Regions from separate parts of the Homo sapiens genome. Here region 1 is linked to region 2. The links come from fine-mapping of genetic effects on gene expression. A gene starts in region 2. The other region holds a variant in brackets. All regions are shown on one strand. Distances are between the middles of the regions. Region 1 overlaps AMBRA1 (autophagy and beclin 1 regulator 1). Region 2 holds the start of DGKZ (diacylglycerol kinase zeta).

What was found. PIP is the estimated chance that this variant, and not a neighbour inherited with it, causes the effect.
Region 1: its variant is the best candidate, but not a certain one, in a credible set for the expression of DGKZ in whole blood (TOPMed, PIP 0.78).

Annotation. Positions count from the first base shown.
Region 1 is chr11:46,467,721-46,476,050 of GRCh38, forward strand. All of the region lies in intron 11 of AMBRA1 (autophagy and beclin 1 regulator 1), which reads right to left. Among named protein-coding and RNA genes, the nearest start is that of MIR3160-1, 20 kb to the left of the region's middle. The variant C/G (reference allele first, on the strand shown) is at 4,872.
Region 2 is chr11:46,344,149-46,352,478 of GRCh38, forward strand. It overlaps DGKZ (diacylglycerol kinase zeta), which reads left to right and starts at 3,315. Exons shown (of 31, transcript NM_001199267.2): 1 at 3,315-3,672. The coding sequence starts at 3,512. RefSeq lists enhancers at 998-1,107, 1,051-1,345, 2,048-2,117, 2,188-2,237, 4,141-5,126 and 2 more and silencers at 3,022-3,501, 3,602-3,651, 3,614-3,827, 4,464-4,623.

The DNA of each region.
Region 1 (8,330 bases), 120 kb after region 2:
ATGGGATTTCACCATGTCAGCTAGGCTGGTCTCAAACTCCTGACCTCACGTGATCCTCCCAAAGTGCTGGGATTATAGGTGTGAGCCACTGCACCTGGCCCTTTTACTGTTAATTTAGAAGAGATCTGGGAGAGAGTGGAGATAAACACACATGTTCATTCTTTCATGTTTACCAGAAGTCTAGGGCCACATACTGGCAAGTATTTCTGGCATGGGAAGATTATAAGCAGGGAACAACCAGGCAGGAAACTGCTACGAAAGCATAATGGCCTCAATCAGGGCTAGAATAGTGAGAAGAGATCCTGGAATCTTCAGTTTACTTAGGAAAACATGGTTGCTATTCTTCCAGGGCATAGGATGGTGACAGGTATATTGGAAACCCTCACACATTTGTTGAATGAAGAAATGGCCAAACAACAGCTGCCTTCTTTGAGTGGTTCTGTGAATTATAAGAACAATAGATGATAAAGAATATGCAGCAAGCAGTGCGTGGTGGGACCAATCACTAATACAAAAAAAAGTGGGGAGGGGTGGCGGGCAGCATGGTGGCTCACACTGGTAGTCCCAAGCACCTTAGGAGGTGCCAAGGCAGGAGGATGGCTTGAGTCCAGGAGTTTGAGAACAGCCTGGGCAATATAGTGAGACCTCATCTCTTGAAAAAAAAGAAAAAAGAAGAGGAAGGAGGCCCAAGCATTACCCTTGGCTCAATGTAACTCTGAACTCCTGGGCTTATGGAATCCTCCCACCTCAGCCTCCTAGTAGCACAAGCATCACTCTTAAAGAAAAGGAAGGCCAGGGCCAGGCGCAGTGACTCACGCCTGTAATCCCAGCACTTTGGGAGGCTGAGGTGGGTGCATCACAAGGTCAGGAGATCGAGACCATCCTAGCTAACACCGTGAAACCCCGTCTCTACTAAAAATACAAAAAAATACAAAAAAAAAAATAGCCGGGTGTGGTGGCGGGCGCCTGTAGTCCCCGTTACTCAGGAGGCTGAGGCAGGAGAATGGCGTGAACCTGGGAGGCGGAGCTTGCAGTGAGCCGAGATCACACCACTGCACTCCAGCCTGGGCGGCAACAGAGTGAGGCTCCGTCTCAAAAAAAAAAAAAAGAAAAAAGAAAAAGAGAGAAAGAAAAGGAGGAAGGCCAGACACAGTGGCTCAAGCCTGTAATCCCAGCACTTCAGGAGGCCAAGGCAGGTGGATCACCTGAAGTCAGGAATTCGAGACCAGCCTGACCAACATGGCAAAACCCCGTCTCTACTAAACATACAAAATTAGCTGGGTGTGGTGGTCTATGCCTGTAATCCCAGCTCCTCAAGAGGCTGAGGCAGGAGAATCACTTGAACCTGGGAGGCGGAGGTTGCAGTGAGCCGAAATCACGCCACTGAACTCCAGCCTGCGTGACAACAGGGAAACTCCACCTCAAAAAAAGAAAAAGAAGATGTAATAAAATATTAGATTTAGTTAGTTTAGGCTTTACAGTTATATCTATATCTAACGTATTTTCATTGAATATGGTAAAATGTGTTTTATGCTGAACTCTCCAGCTCCTAATCTTCCCTTCCTCCAAAATGAAATCATTGTTTTTATAACAGAATTTTTTATTTCTCTGAATGTTTTAGAAACAGAGTACCTTGGGAATGATAGTAAGGAGTTAAAAAAAAGAAATAGAATCCTTAGATTACAACAGACTGTAAAAGAAACATTGGGGACAGCAACTATGAAAAAAAGGTATGGTTCCTAACTTGAGAGAACTGACAATCTTGAAGGAGACAGAAAATATGTACACCTATTATATGTGTAATATATATGAAAACTGTATGAAAATATGTACATTATATGAAAATATGTACAATGAAAATACTATAAACTAGGCACAATTTAAATATGTTATCTTCAGAGTAAAATGAATCTAAGAATAAGACTTAGCAACATATATTTCTTTCTTTTTCTCTTTTTTTAGAGATAGGATCTCACTCTGTTGCCCCAGGGTGGAGTGCAGTGGTACGATCATTGCTCACTGCAGCCTCGAACTCCTGGGCTCAAGCAATCCTCCTGTCTCAACCTTCTGAGTAGCTAGGATTACAGGCCCAAACTACCATGCCCAGCTAACTTAAACTTTTTTTTTTTTTTTTTTTGGTAGAGATATGGTCTCACTATGTTGCCCAGACTGGTCTCGAACTCCTGGCCTCGGGCAATCCTCCTAACTTGGCTTCCCCAAGTGCTGGCATTACAGGAATGAGCCACTGTGCCCAGCCTATTTCATTTTAAAAATTTACAATAATCTAATATCCATACTTGCATTCTGATATAACTAAGCATTGTGTAGCAAGATACTTTATACATTAATCAGTTATATAAATAAGACTTGTATTATCTTCCTTAGAGCTAAAGAAAACATGCCAAGTGCCAAAATAAGTGCTCTAAAAGCTTTCATTCAAGACTGGACACCATGGCTCATGCCTATAACCCGAGCACTTTGGAGGCCAAGCTGGGAGGATCACTTGAGCCAGGAGTTCAAGACCAGCCTGAGCAACATAGGGAGACCCCATATCTACAAAAAATTTTTTAAAAAATCAGCCAGGTTGGCCGGGCGCGGTGGCTCACGCCTATAATCCCAGCACTTTGGGAGTCCGAGACGGGCGGATCACGAGGTCAGGAGATCGAGACCAATCCTGGCTAACACGGTGAAACCCTATCTCTACTAAAAATACAAAAAATTAGCCGGGCGTGGTGGTGGGTGCCTGTAGTCCCAGCTACTGAGGAGGCTGAGGCAGGAGAATGGCGTGAACCCGGGAGGCAGAGCTTGCAGTGAGCCGAGATGGCGCCACTGCACTCCAGCCTGGGCGACAGAGTGAGACTCCGTCTCAAAAAAAAAAAAAAAAAAAAAAAATTAGCCAGGTGTGGCACCATGGGCCTGCGGTCCTAGCTACTCAGAAGGCTAAAGTGAGAGGATTGCTTGAGCCCAGGAGTTGGGTGCTTGCAGTGAGCCATGTCTGCACCACCATACTCCAGCCTGGGTGACAAGGTGAGACTGTCTCAAAAAAATAAAATAAAAAGCTCCCATTCTATCTTCACAACCACCCTAAAGGAAGTTTGTTTACTCATCAGACAAATATTTGAGTATCTACTACATGCCAGACAATGAATAAAACAGACAAAAATTCCCACCTTCATGGAAATTACATTCTAGAGGGAGGAGGAGAAAGAACTAATAAGTTCACCATATAGTATGTTAAATTATGGTAAGATCCATGGAGAAATATAAAACAGGGAAGAGGCATGGAAAATGTTGCATGGCGATTTCTGATAGGGTAGTTGCTGAAAGAATTTACTGAATCCCTATCTAATAGATGAGGAGGAAATTGAGGCTCAGATCAAGATAAACCATTTGCCCATGGTCTCCAGGTTACCAAGAGTTTAGACGAAATTTGAATTCACGCCAGATGCAGTGGCTCATGCCTGTAATCCCAGCACTTTGGGAGGCTCGGGCGGGCGGATCACTTGAAATCAGGAGTTTAAGACCAGCCTGGCCAACATGGCAAAACCCCACCTCTGCTAAAAAATATAAAAATTCGTCTGGGCACGGTGGCTCATACCTGTAATCCCAGCACTTTGGGAGGCCGAGGCAGGAGGATCACAAGGTCAGGAGATCGAGACCACCCTAGCTAACACGGTGAAACCCCATCTCTACTAAAAATACAAAAAATTAGCTGGGCATGGTGGCGGGCGCCTGCAGTCCCAGCTACTCGAGAGGCTGAAGCAGGAGAATGGGGTAAACCTGGGAGATGGAGGTTGCAGTGAGCCGAGATCGCCCCACTGCACTCCAGCCTGGGCAACAGAGTAATATTCCTTTAAGAGTATTTTGGCATTTCCCCCAAAAGGGTTAAGAAATAACTTTCTTTCTGTTTTGTTTTGTTTTTTTTTTAGATGGAGTCTTGCTCTGTTGCCAGGCTGGAGTGCAGTAGCGTGATCTCGGCACACTGCAACCTCCACCTCCGAGGTTCAAGCAATTCCCCTGCCTCAGCCTCCTGAGTAACTGGGACTACAGGCACGCGTCACCATGCCCAGCTAATTTTTTGTATTTTAGTAGAGATGGGGTTTCATCATGTTGGCCAGGATGGTCTCGATCTCCTGTCCTCATGATCCACCCACCTCGGCCTCCCAAAGTGCCAGGATTACAGGCGTGAGCCACCGTGCCTGGCCAGGAATAACTTTCTACTTCAGGATTTGTTGCCTCGTTTCACATCCACATTAATTTTTACAAAAGAGTTGTGAATGGCCTAAGATCTTTGGTTAACGTTATGTTCTTGGAAAAGCTGAGAAGAGATTAAAATAATAATTAGCCAGAGATAGTCAAAGGACACATTGTGGAGCAACATTCAGCCTATGAAAAGATTCTGTGCAAATCCTGGACAAGTCTTACCTCCTCCTTACTGCTGCTGTGACCGCTTCTATTTAGTTCAACAAGAAGTATTTATTTTATGTCCCAAGGGTGCCTAGCACAACTCAGATGTTCTTTGGCAACTCCTTTTATTAAACTGAGATGGATCCTTTTCAGCCACCTGAGCCTGTCTCTTAGCATTGAGGTGTTCTTGTCACTGGAACATCTAAAGTTGGCAGTCCCAGCTTGTCTCAAGTAGTTCAGCTACCGCAAATAACCTGGGTGCTAGGACATATATTTAATTTTCTTCCTTTGGACTACAGATAATATCTTTTTCAAATGAAGTTAGAGCACTTTACCAATTTTTCCTACTTAAATTCTGGAAGGAACATAGCGGTAAGTACCACACCCTCACCTGTCAAGTGGACAGAGGTTAAATGACTCACTCAAATTGTATAGAGAATTACTGAAGGAGTCAGGAGAACAAC[C/G]TGTCAACTTCTAGTTTATTTTCTAAAACACAAGATCAGTAGTTCTCAATCTTTTTGTGTTCACAACATACATTTGAATACTAGATTTCTTAGCAATTTGAAGGAATCAAAAGACTCAGAGAACAGTAAAGTCAGCAATAATAAAAACACAAATCACTTACAGTAAGACAATGTCTCCTAGTCCTTATCTGGTGGCCTTCGGAACTATGTCACTGAGTCACTGAGCAGAGCTGTTCTCCCTGCCCTGTCACCTGCTCACCAGGCAAACTCCACACATGCTCCAGGAAACACAGGCTTGCTCTTTGGTACCAGTCCCTTACCTCTTGCTCATACCAACTTATAAATCCCACTCTAGAACACAGTGTGACTTCCTCAACCTCAAATCAACCTGATATTACAGTAACAGTTTTAGTAAAGGTATATTTTACACACTGATCAAAACTTATTGGCATACAAGAGTGCTAGATCATGTTAGGAAAGTCAGTCTGCCTGCCTTCAGGAAAGCAAAGCCTCCTCAATTAAGAGGTCAACTTGAATTTAGTGGTTAATTAATACTTTAATGCAACGTCACTGGAAAATAAGCAATTGACAAGTAGTGCCAAAGGCACTCATTAAAGACTACATCCTCCTGTATCATGTCAGCATGACAGCCTCTGTGATAGCCAGGAAGAGACAACTGACCTCATCAAAGGAAGCTAAAGCTGGAAAGACACTGCAATACCCCAAAAAAGCTTTCTGAGGAAAAGAAGCCTGTGTACATCTGGTTTGAGTGCCAGGAACTTTAGGTGTGTTTAAGTGACACAGAGAAAAGTAGAGAGGGTGATAACTTGCATTTTTGTAACACATTTCTCTGATAGGATGAGTATTGTATTGACATCTTTGGATAAAGCCCTAACATAAAACAAAGTTAATTCTTCCTGTTACTTGTGGGGGAAACTGTCACAGAGTGATATAATGATCAGTGATAAAGAATCAGAAAAAATCCAGGATTTCTGGAGGTAGAATAGCAATAATAAGTATTGAAAAGGCAGAAAAATAATGGATCCTTTAAGGATTCTTTTTTTGTTTGTTTGTTTTTGAGACGGAGTCTCGCACTGTCGCCCAGGCTGAGTGCAGTGGTGTGATCTCAGCTCACTGCAAGCTCCGCCTCGCGGGTTCACACCATTCTCCTGCCTCAGCCTCCCAAGTAGCTGGCACTACGGACACCCACCACCACGCCCGGCTAACTTTTTGTATTTTTAGTGGAGACGGTGTTTCACCGTGTTAGCCACGATGGTCTCGATCTCCTGACCTTGTGATCGGCCCGCCTCAGCTTCCCAAAGTGCTGGGATTACAGGCGTGAGCCACCGCACCCGGACAGGATCCTTTAAGGATTCTTAAAGAAGGTAACTTAATTTTTCCTGTTAAAAATTCCCAACACTTAGTGTAGGACCTACCTAGCACATAGTAGCACTCAAGAAGTATATTCCAATGAATACACACAAACTTGAAAATAGGACTATATTACTCCTTAGAATAGCAATGAGGAGATCCCTGAACTTTTACTGGTTCAGGGTGCTGCCCTGATTTAGGAAGAAAAAAAAAAAAGAGTAGCAATAAATGTGGTGGTAAAATCAGTCAGTTTGATATTTTTCCTGGTTGATTAATTTCATTATTAAGTTAGTAAATATTAGAACCACCGGAGGAAAATACTTTCAAATGAATAAGGGAATAAATAAATTAATTATTATCAGGTATATGATCAATACGAACAGGTCTATTCATATACTTCTCAACATAAACAGAGGCCCAATTTCTAACCTTGTTCTATTTTTTGAGACAGAGTCTTGCTCTGTCGCCCAGGCTGGAGTGCAGTGGTACAATCTCGGCTCACTGCAACCTCCACCTCCCAGGTTCAAGCGATTCTCCTGCCTCAGCCTCCCGAGTAGCTGGGACTACAGGCACGTGACACCACGCCTGGCTGACTTCGTATTTTTAGTAGAGTCGGGGTTTCACAATGTTGGCCAGGCTGGTCTTGAACTCCAGACCTCAGGTGATCCACCCACCTCGGCCTCCCAAAGTGCTGGGATTACAAGCGTAAGCCACGGCACCTGGCCTCTACCCTTGTTCTTAAGCATCTATACTATACTGTCTGTTGGACAGAGGGGGAAATCCAGAAAGGATTAGTACTCATTCTGGATTTTCCCTATGGCTAGCAGGTAAAGTTAAGTTCAAGGAAAGAAATACAGTACTGGTTCACTGAGGGCAGCTAACCCATATCAGAGCCAGAACAGTGAAAAAAAACAAAAAGCAAGATAGTCGAAAGAGAAAGAACACAGTGTGCGCTTGAGAAATGGACATTTTAAGGCTCAGCCTGACAAAGTCCGCATATATGTATAACATGAGGAGGATGACATTATGTTCCCATAGGATCAACCTGAGTACTTGGAGAGGAGATGAGAGGAGAAAATGAGTGAGGTGAATTGAATATATCTTAAACTGAAAAACAGTCTTATCAATAGAAAAAAAATTAAAGTATTTTAGGTTCTTCTGCAAAGTAGAATAGCAACCCAACTAACTTCAAACCCTAGTCAGCCTATCTGGCAGGCAGCCTCCAGCGCCCAGTGCTACCTATAACTTGGAATGCAAAGTATTAATTATGAATAAGAGAAGAATTCAAGTCCTTGGTTTCCTTACAAGAAAGTAGTTATGGGTGTGTCTCCATGACATTTGCTAACGTTCAACGTTTAAGAACATCAAAGCCAAAAGGGAAGATAGACAAAATATTCAACAGTTTAATGTCCAGGTTCCAGGTTGGAAAAGGAACAGACAAGCATACATTTCTTTGAGGGGGTAGACTGGACCTTAATTCCACATGTATTAGTTTGCTGTATTCTTTGATTGAGTCTATTTCTCTGTATACAAAAATCCCCTCCCATCACAGACTATCCAATGAAAAATGAAAATGAGAGACAGAGGAATCCTAGGATAATTCAATTTGTCAAATTCAGAAGGCCCAAGGACTCAAAATTCCAACCCTTTCCTTCAGAGACAGAGCCCCTGAGGCCATTCCCAGTTTGATAATTTGTTTCAGTTATGCTCCCCACACAAAAGTTATGAGTCATATAAAACTGTAAAATGTCAAATAGTCAACTTGCAACCATCATCACTTTGCTCTGGATACGAGAATCCCGTAATTTCTTGTCGCATACTTCTTTTTTACTGTAAGGTCTCAGATTCGGAGAAAGGTGGAACAGGAAACTGTGGCATTCACAAGAAAGAAGGCAAAGAAAGCAGGCAGCTTCAAATAAAGGATATACTAAAATATCAAGACTAAAATGATTTTTTTCAGGAATTCTAAACCCTAACAGCTATTCTCCAGGTGTCGGAAAAGAACACTGTTCCCCTCCATAGCTGCATTAGCCTTTCAGAAAATGGTCACTCTTCCATATAGGGGAGACACTAATATCACAAAGGAAA
Region 2 (8,330 bases):
CATGTTGGCCAGGCTAGTCTCAAACTCCTGACCTCAAGTAACCCACCAGCCTCAGCCTCCCAATCTTTATGGCACATCTTGTTTGCTGACATTATATTGTACATAGATTGTTTGTTTCCTGAATGTCTTCCCCACTAGAATCTAAGCTCTGTGAGGACAGAGCCCTGCTTCCTTGTTTTTAGAGCTATGTTCTCCGATACGGTGCCTGATGCACAGAAGGCATTCAATAAGTATTTATTGAATGAATTAATTTGTCAACCTTCCTATCTCTTCTTTATTCCTCAGATAACACCATGAGCTCAATTTTTTTTTTTTTTTTTTGGAGACAGTGTCTCACTCTTGTCACCCAGGCTGGAGTGCAGTGGCGCGAACTCGGCTCATCACAACCTCCACCTCCCAGGTTCAAGCGATTCTCCTGCCTCAGCCTCCCAAGTAGCTGTGATTACAGGCACCTGCCACCACGCCGGGCTAATTTTTGTATTTTTAGTAGAAATGGGGTTTCACCATGTTGGCCAGACTGGTCTCAAACTCCTGAGCTCAGGTGATCTGCCCACCTCGGCCTCCCAAAGTGTTGGGATTACAGGTGTGAGCCACCATGCCTGGCCTATTACTCCACTTTACAGATGAGAAAACTGAGGCTCAGAAAATCTCCCTGGCACATGTATTCATTAGTTTATTTGTTTATAGGCTACCTTGTCCCAAAAGTTATTTAGAGGACTCCGAGAGGTTTATGACCTGATCCAGGCCACACAGAGCTGGTAAGAGGCAGAACAGGACACATGCTCATGTCTCCAGGCTCCATCCTCATTGCTCATTTCTCTACACCACCTTCCTGTATGCCCAGCCCTGTGTAAGATGGTATGCTGCACACAGAAGTGCTAGGAAGAGAGCGCTCTTTGAGGGCTGGGCACACCCAGCCATTGTACCTGGTGGTTGTCATAAAGCGGGAGACCTCAGCAGGACCAAGAGTTGAAAATCAGACAGTTTAAATGGAGAGGAAAACCAGACAGGAGCCCAGGTGCAGATTCCAGCCCAAGCAAGCCCCATGGCTGCCTCCTGGCTGCTGGTCTGGGCTTGTCCCCACCTGCCCCTTGCTTTCTTGTGCAGCTCTTCACGGCAGCTGGCCCCAGCCAGCGGAAGGCGCCTATGAGCCCTGAGCCTGTGGTCCTCAGCTTGGGCGGCCAGCGGCCTCTAGCAGGCCCCCCCCTCGACCCCACCCCCGTCAGGAAGTGCCGAAAGAGGAAGAGAGTCGCCGGGCAGGATGAGCGCACCGGGGGCTGGCCACAGTGCCGGGGGAAGCTGCAATGAATCCTCAGCTCTGGGCCCAGTGGAGGCGCTGGGGACGGAAGAAGGGGAGCGGCCGGGGTCACTGAGGCAGATGTGGCGCTACCGCTCCTGGGACGTGCCACAGATCCCATCAGAGGCACCCCAGACACAGTAGGTACAAGGGGTGGCCTGGGAGTGGGCATGGGACCTCTGTCCCTCTATGAGCCTTTTATCTGAGATGGGGGTGACAGAAGTAGGGTCACCCATCTGTCATCCAGCACTCTGCAGAGGCACAGAGTAGGGCAAAGGAGTTATTGGCAGGGTGCAGGGAGCTCTGATGTTTGGACTGTGTGGAGGAACTGAGCTCGAGAGAGGCCAGGAGTTGAGCAAGCTAGCAGTGGGGGGATCTGGGAAGAGGAGCCCCCCCAGGAGTGTGGCACTGGATGCTGGAGATTTCTGACCCAGCTGCAAGGCCTTGTGGAGACTCCGTGGGGTCTTCAGTTGCCTCTGATCTCTTCTCTCAGAGCTTGGAGTAAGAGCCATTGGGAAACTTCCCCAAAAGGACCCATGCACCCCAGAGGCCAGTTGTCAGGCATACTTGGGGATTGATCTGCCCTCCTCCTGGCCACCCTGGCACCAGCTGCTGGCTGGAGGGCTGGAGCCCCACCTCCCTGATCAGACCTTCTCCCAACTTGCAGGAAACTGGGAGAGGGTTCTGGGCCTCGGGGTGCTGGTTCTTCCTCAAAATCACAGGCTTGTCCGCAGGTCACAGCCCTAAGCATTGGCTATTTGCGGCTGACTAAGGCTGGAAAACGGGCTGCCAGAACCCAAGAGGGGAGGATGAAAGCGAAGGTGACACAGGATGTGGCTTGGCAGAGAGGCGTGCACACAGAAGTAGTGGGCAGCTGGTGTGGGCAGCAGGGTGGTAGGGTTTGGGGAGGTGGAAGACCATGCTTCCCAGCTCCTGGCCTCCCTTCGTCAGCCCTGCGGGGGCCATCAGAAACAGCCCCGGTGTGTGTGATGGCTGTGCCCCTACAGGTGACTGCTTGGGTTCCAATTGCTCTCATTTCTGGAGGGGGACGGCCTCGGCTGCATTGTGGGGTGTCTTTGTGTGTGCATGTGAGGTATATTTCTGGATGGGAGTGTGTGCATATGCACACACATACATATGTGTGAGGGATGTGGCAACCGGTAACCATTGTCCTGGGAGTATTTGTATGTAGGAGAAAGGTGTGTGTTCTGTGTGGGCATGTGTGCTTGTGAATGGGAGTGTGGTACCTGTTGTCCTTCTGTGTATTTGTGAGTGTGTAAGGGCTGTGCAGGTGATTCCCGTAGCATATGAGATCTATAGGTTCTGTTGAATACTATGTCAGGAAAATGCGATGTGTTGGGCCTGGGTGAGAAGGTTGGAAACCATTGTGAATAGCTGTGGAAGGATGACTTTGTAGGAGAAACTTGTGAGTTCTTTGTTGGTGTGTGTGCGAGTCATTAAGTGACTTTGGTCACTGAGTGCGAGAGGCTGGGGTGGGAAGTGTTCGTTTAAGTAATGAGTGGGCATAATTGTGTAAGGGATGTGTTTGTTCTGCGTGCATGGGGAGCACTGTGTGACTTTTGTTCCCCTGGGTGCGATTTGGGGGAGCCAAGGAGGTATGGGTGGAGATTGTGAGTGGCTATGAGTAGGGTGTGCGAGAGCGGAGGGGAGGTGGTGACAGCAGCCCTCGCGAGTGTACACTTGTGAGCGTGCAGTTGTTTGGTAGCGGAGGGATCGGGGGAGGAAAGATGCGCGTCTGGATGCGCGCAGTGCGAGTGTGCCAGGCCGGGAGATTCAGTCCCATCCAGGCGGGCCGGGCCGGGCTGGGGGCAGGGCTTTCTGCTGCCCCGCCCATTCGTCGCCCCGCCCCTCGGACCGCCCCAGCGGGCTGCAGCGCAGCGGGCGTCCGGCAGAGGGCGCTGCGGGCCCGGTGCCACCGTGCGGCCGAGGGGGCGTGCTCGGCGGCGGGCAGGCAGCGGCCCGGCCAGCTATGCGGGGTCCTGCGGCCGCGGCTGGCGGCACTTCCTGGAGCGGCGGCGGCAGCGGCTTCCCGGGCACCTGGGCGTGGGGAGCGGGGGCGCGCGGCGCGGGGCGGGCGGAGCGAGCGCGCGCCATGGAGGTGGCGGGCGGCGCGGAGCGGGCGTGCTGAGCCCCGGCCGCCGGCCCGGCATGGGCGTCTCCCGCGGGCCCTCCGCCGGCCGGGGCTAGGGCCGGATGGAGCCGCGGGACGGTAGCCCCGAGGCCCGGAGCAGCGACTCCGAGTCGGCTTCCGCCTCGTCCAGCGGCTCCGAGCGCGACGCCGGTCCCGAGCCGGACAAGGCGCCGCGGCGACTCAACAAGCGGCGCTTCCCGGGGCTGCGGCTCTTCGGGCACAGGTGAGCGGGGCGGCGGCGGGGCAGGCACCGAGGCACCGGCAGGTTACCGCTCCCTCACCGGGGGACATTCCTCGGCCACTGGGGGTCCGGGCCACTTCGGTACTGACACTGAGTCGGGGAGAGGCTGGCACCGGCGGCACGAGCCGTCTTGGCGTGGGCACCCACTGGGAGTCATCCCCCAGGGCCGGGACACGGGCGGGATCGGTCGGCTTGGCACTGTCACCGGGTGGGGGTCATTCCCTGGCACCGGCAGTCTAGTGCGCCTCATGTGTAGTACCGTGGGAGGATCGGCTCCCAACCCTCCAGCAGGAAGATGGAATCACCCCAGCCCCCGGCACAAGCAGGTTGGGCCCCCAGGACTGGTCACCCACGCCTTCTTGGCACTGATAGAACAGGGCCTCTCTGAGCCTCCTGGCACCACTGAGGTGGGGATCACACCGCCCTTTGGACTTTCGTGGGACCAGGTTGCCTACCATCACTGCGTGGCATCTGCAGAACGTAGCCCCGTTGATACCGTCACCACACATGGCTTGTCCCCAAGCTCTGGTCACTGGTTTAATTGTTTAACATGTTAAGCTTCTCCTTGGGGTTGGGGGTGCCTGATCATCTGCCCTACCTTGCTCTTAATTAGCAGAGAGACCCCAGCCCATCCCTCTGCTAGGCAGGCAGCATGTCTCCCTCTACCCTCTTCCAGCCCATGCTGGGAAAGGGATGGGGTGGGCTGGAGTCTGGAATCTGCTGGCTGTTCAAGCTTCATCTTGCCCCCTCCCCCAGCACTCCAAATGTCACCATCTTGTGCCTGTGACAGAGCTTTGACCAGGACTCTAGCGGGGAACCGGGGGGAGAGTGTGGAAAGACTGAGTGCAGGCAGTTCATGGCAAGTGTGCTGCTCTTGGTCGTGAGCCGCTGCCTGCCCTGGTAGCCGTGGTGTAAGGTAAGGGACGTGAGGCCCCAGGAGTACCTGACCTGGCTCCCTGCGCTTCTTCCTGACCGAGCCTTGCCCTTCCCTGGTGGCCAAGGAGCTTGTAGCCAATCAGCCAAGGACCCCAGAGCCACCTCAGACTGAACTCTGACCACTTGGAGTCTGCCCAAGGCCTCCCTCTCACTTTTCTGCAGCTGCCTAGACTTGGTGGCATTCACCCCCACCCCGCCCCTTAGCTTTGCTCTGCCCCTTCCCTGGGTAGACTTTACCCACCAATAACATGGGCGGTTTTCTCCTGTCGTGTGGGCTAGCATACCCGTGATGCTGACTTGTGCCCTCTACCCGTCTCACCCGGGCTAGGGCCCACTCTTTGCACCTGCACTCTGTCTCTGAGCACATGCACAGATCTGAATTCTTACACTGGCAGATGGAGCTCCGTGGGCTCCTGTGTTACCACGCAGGCTTCAATGTCATATAAAACAGAGCAGGGAGTGAAACTTCCAGTAGCTCTGTTTTGTCACCCACAGCCCTGCAAGATGGAGCAGTTTACACCCAGCTCTGCAGGATGTAGCCTCCAGTATTCACAGGCTCCGCAGGGGGAGGGAGGGGCGCCACCAGAGGCTTCCTGTTGCTGCCCACAGGGTATCAAGTGTTGGGTTCTTCTGACCTGTGGCTGTGCCCCTTCTGAAGGGCACAGGTTTGTGGGTATAGGGATGAGCACATTCGGGAGGAAGAACAAGAAACCAGAGAACCAACAGATACCTTTATGTAATTCTCTAAAATAAGCAGGGTAGGTGGTATTCTTCCTTTTGTAAAACAAAAAAAAACCAATTTTTTGTAGAGATGAGATCTCACACAGCATTGCCCAGCCTGGTCTTGAATTCCTGACCTCAAGCAGTCCTCCCACCTCGGACTCCCAAAGTGCTGGGATTATAGGTGTGAGCCACCACACCTGGCCTGTTTCTCCATTTTTATAGATGAAAGAAACACAGTCAGAGGGGATTTGCTCAGAGTCACATAGCAAGGAAGAGGTAGAGATAAGGTTTGAAGTCAAGTTGGTGTGATTCCAAAATCCACATCCCTTTCTCTATACCAGGATCCCAAACGGAACATCACAATGGCCAAGGGAGCTTTAAGAAATACAGATTCCTAGATCTTCCCTTGGCGTGTCTGACCCATCAGGTCTGGAGGTGGGGCCTGGGCATTGTTTGAAGCTTCCCAGGTGATTCTCATGTCCCATCAAGTTTGAGAAGCACAGTAGTCCGTCACGCTGGGGAGTGTAAGTGCTCTTATAGGATGCCTGATGAGAGGAAAGAAAATTCAGCAGCACCTCTGGAAGCATGTAAGGAGTGTCCTTTGTTTGGGAGCACTGTGCTGGGGATAGTGGGGCCTTCAGAAATGAATACATTCAGAGAACCCAGTAGTATCAGGCAGAGAGCAGCAAGGGAAAGCACTTTCTCCTGGCAGGCCTGGGAGCTCACTGGGGCTGGCCTCCTTCCCTTTGACTTGATGGGGCCAAGGGGTGGGTGCTGGGGGCAGACATGTGGAAGGGTGGAATAGTACACCTGCTCTGGGTTCTGCCCCCTCCAATGCTGCTTGGCTGGTCCTGCTACCTTTGTTTGTTTGTTGCAGCCTCAGGTAAAAGTCCTCGAAGCCCCAGCTGAAACCAGCCCTTCATCTTATCCCAGCTCCATGCTAGCTCTTAACCTAGCTCTTGCTTCTCCCCAGTCATCCACCCCATGTCCCCCATCCCGCCCCCTCCCCACCCCACCCACATACACACATCCAGCCTTGGGGTTGAGGGGCCCGACGGGAAGATCAAGGGTAACAACTAGGTTGGCAGTGGCTGCTGAAGCCAGGTGGAGAATTCTGCATGCGGGCCCTGGCTCATGGGGAGAGTTCCATGAACAATTAGCAGTGTCTGCTGTGGGCTTGGCAGGGGGTCTTGATGGCACATGGGCCACATGTTTGCCATCCTGGCCCCTCTGGGTAGGACAGTCTCTGAATGGCAGCCCCTGTGGGGCTGAAAGAGGCTTTTCCTTAAAGTCCATCTCTGCCCCACACAACTGGCGTCATCCTCTCAGAATCGGGGGGTGGCAGCTTGCCATCTCCCTTTTTTTTTTTTTTTAGCTCAGTGAGCCATGATTCTCCCCAGCTTGTGGATTCCTCCCACCCCAACTGCATCCCACCTTACTTCTTGCCGGAACTATCAGTCTCCTCCCTGAGGAGGAGGAGGAGGAGAGGAGGTACAGGCCCCTACTCTGATCCCAGGGTATTTAGTTTTCCTCTACCCTGAGCAGAGGGCAGGCAGGACCTTTCCATTTAAGCTTCTGTTGACCCTAAGGATTGGGCAGCCAGGAGTGGGAGAGAAGTGGACTCTCTCTCCTCCTCCAGGACCCACCGGGAAGGAGGACCCGCTTATCCTCTGGCCTGGTCTCAGCAGCCTGATCCTGGCAGGTCACAGGGCTTCTGGATTAGCTGGTTTTACACCCCAGGGGCATCAGAAATTACCTGGCACCTCACACATGTAGACATAAGGAGCCTTGGCCTCAGAGCCCCTAGGAGCCTGAGCGTCTGTGCCGCCATCCCCTGCCCTTCACGGTGCTCAAAGTCACAAGCTCCCAGAGGGCAGGAGGCACACCTGCAGAACCAGTGTGAGACAATGGGTCCCATTTAGAGGCACTGCCACACGGCCCCAGCGAGCATGGCCCTGAAGTCAGGGCTGCAGAGGGTGCCCAGCGGGTGCCTGAGCAGAAGCAGCCCCTGTTTGAGTTGGTTCTGCAATGAATAGGGAGGGACGTGTTGAGGGACGCCTCTTTTGCAGAGGTGAGAACCCTGTCTATGGTGCCAGGGTGTCTGGGAGCGAAAGGAAACCTCTTTGAGTGGTTTGTCTCACCTGGGCTAATGCTGGGAGCAGCCCAGGTTGCTGTGAGAGGCAGGGACAACCTAGAATCCTTGGGTTCCAGCAAGTTTGGGAAAGAAAAATGGGCCTCAGTGGCCGAGCTGCGTTCATCTCACTGTGTTTGCTCCCCACACAAGGTCAGGTGCCAGAGTATACAGCTGGCCCCTGCTGGGAACCCAGTGTAGAATTCTCACAGTCTCCCTCTGTGCCAAACGCTGTCAGGGGAGGGAATGACAATTCTTGTCATTTTGTCTCCATGCCATACTCCAAAAAGGTCAGATCCTGGGATGTGGAGCTGCCCAGGATTCTCGGTTGGCACAGGAGCTTGAGAGTTGGTGTCCCCTCAGGCAAGGACAGAGGAAGGACTAAGTGACCCCTGGTGAGAGAAAGCTGAGGCTCCAGGCAGCTGGGCTGGGGGAGAGTGAGAGAAACGGGCCTGCCCTCCTCGGCTCCCTGGAGGCCTCTCCAGAATTCGCCAGTGGCCCCCCCGGGGCAGAGGTGAAAGTGGAGTCATAGGTTAGCCCTGAGTCTTAGGCCGCGCGGGCCCCTCGGAGAAGCAGGGATCCGGAGCCCTTCCACCCACTTTAAGGCAGGAGAGAATTGGGAGGTGTGGAAGCAGCCCCTGGAGGCTGCCCTGCAGTGCCTCTGGAGCGACACAAGGGGGCGACAGCTGCCGTTGTGGGAGGCCGGTGGGCGAGGAGCTTCTCCTTCCGCCAGTCCACAGGCCCACGGGGACCCACAGGCACTCGCTGGAAGTTACCTGCAGCTCTAGCTGCCGGGCGGAGCCAATCAGTGCGGCCCAGGGCAGGCTGGGTGGGTGCCTCTAGCCTCCTG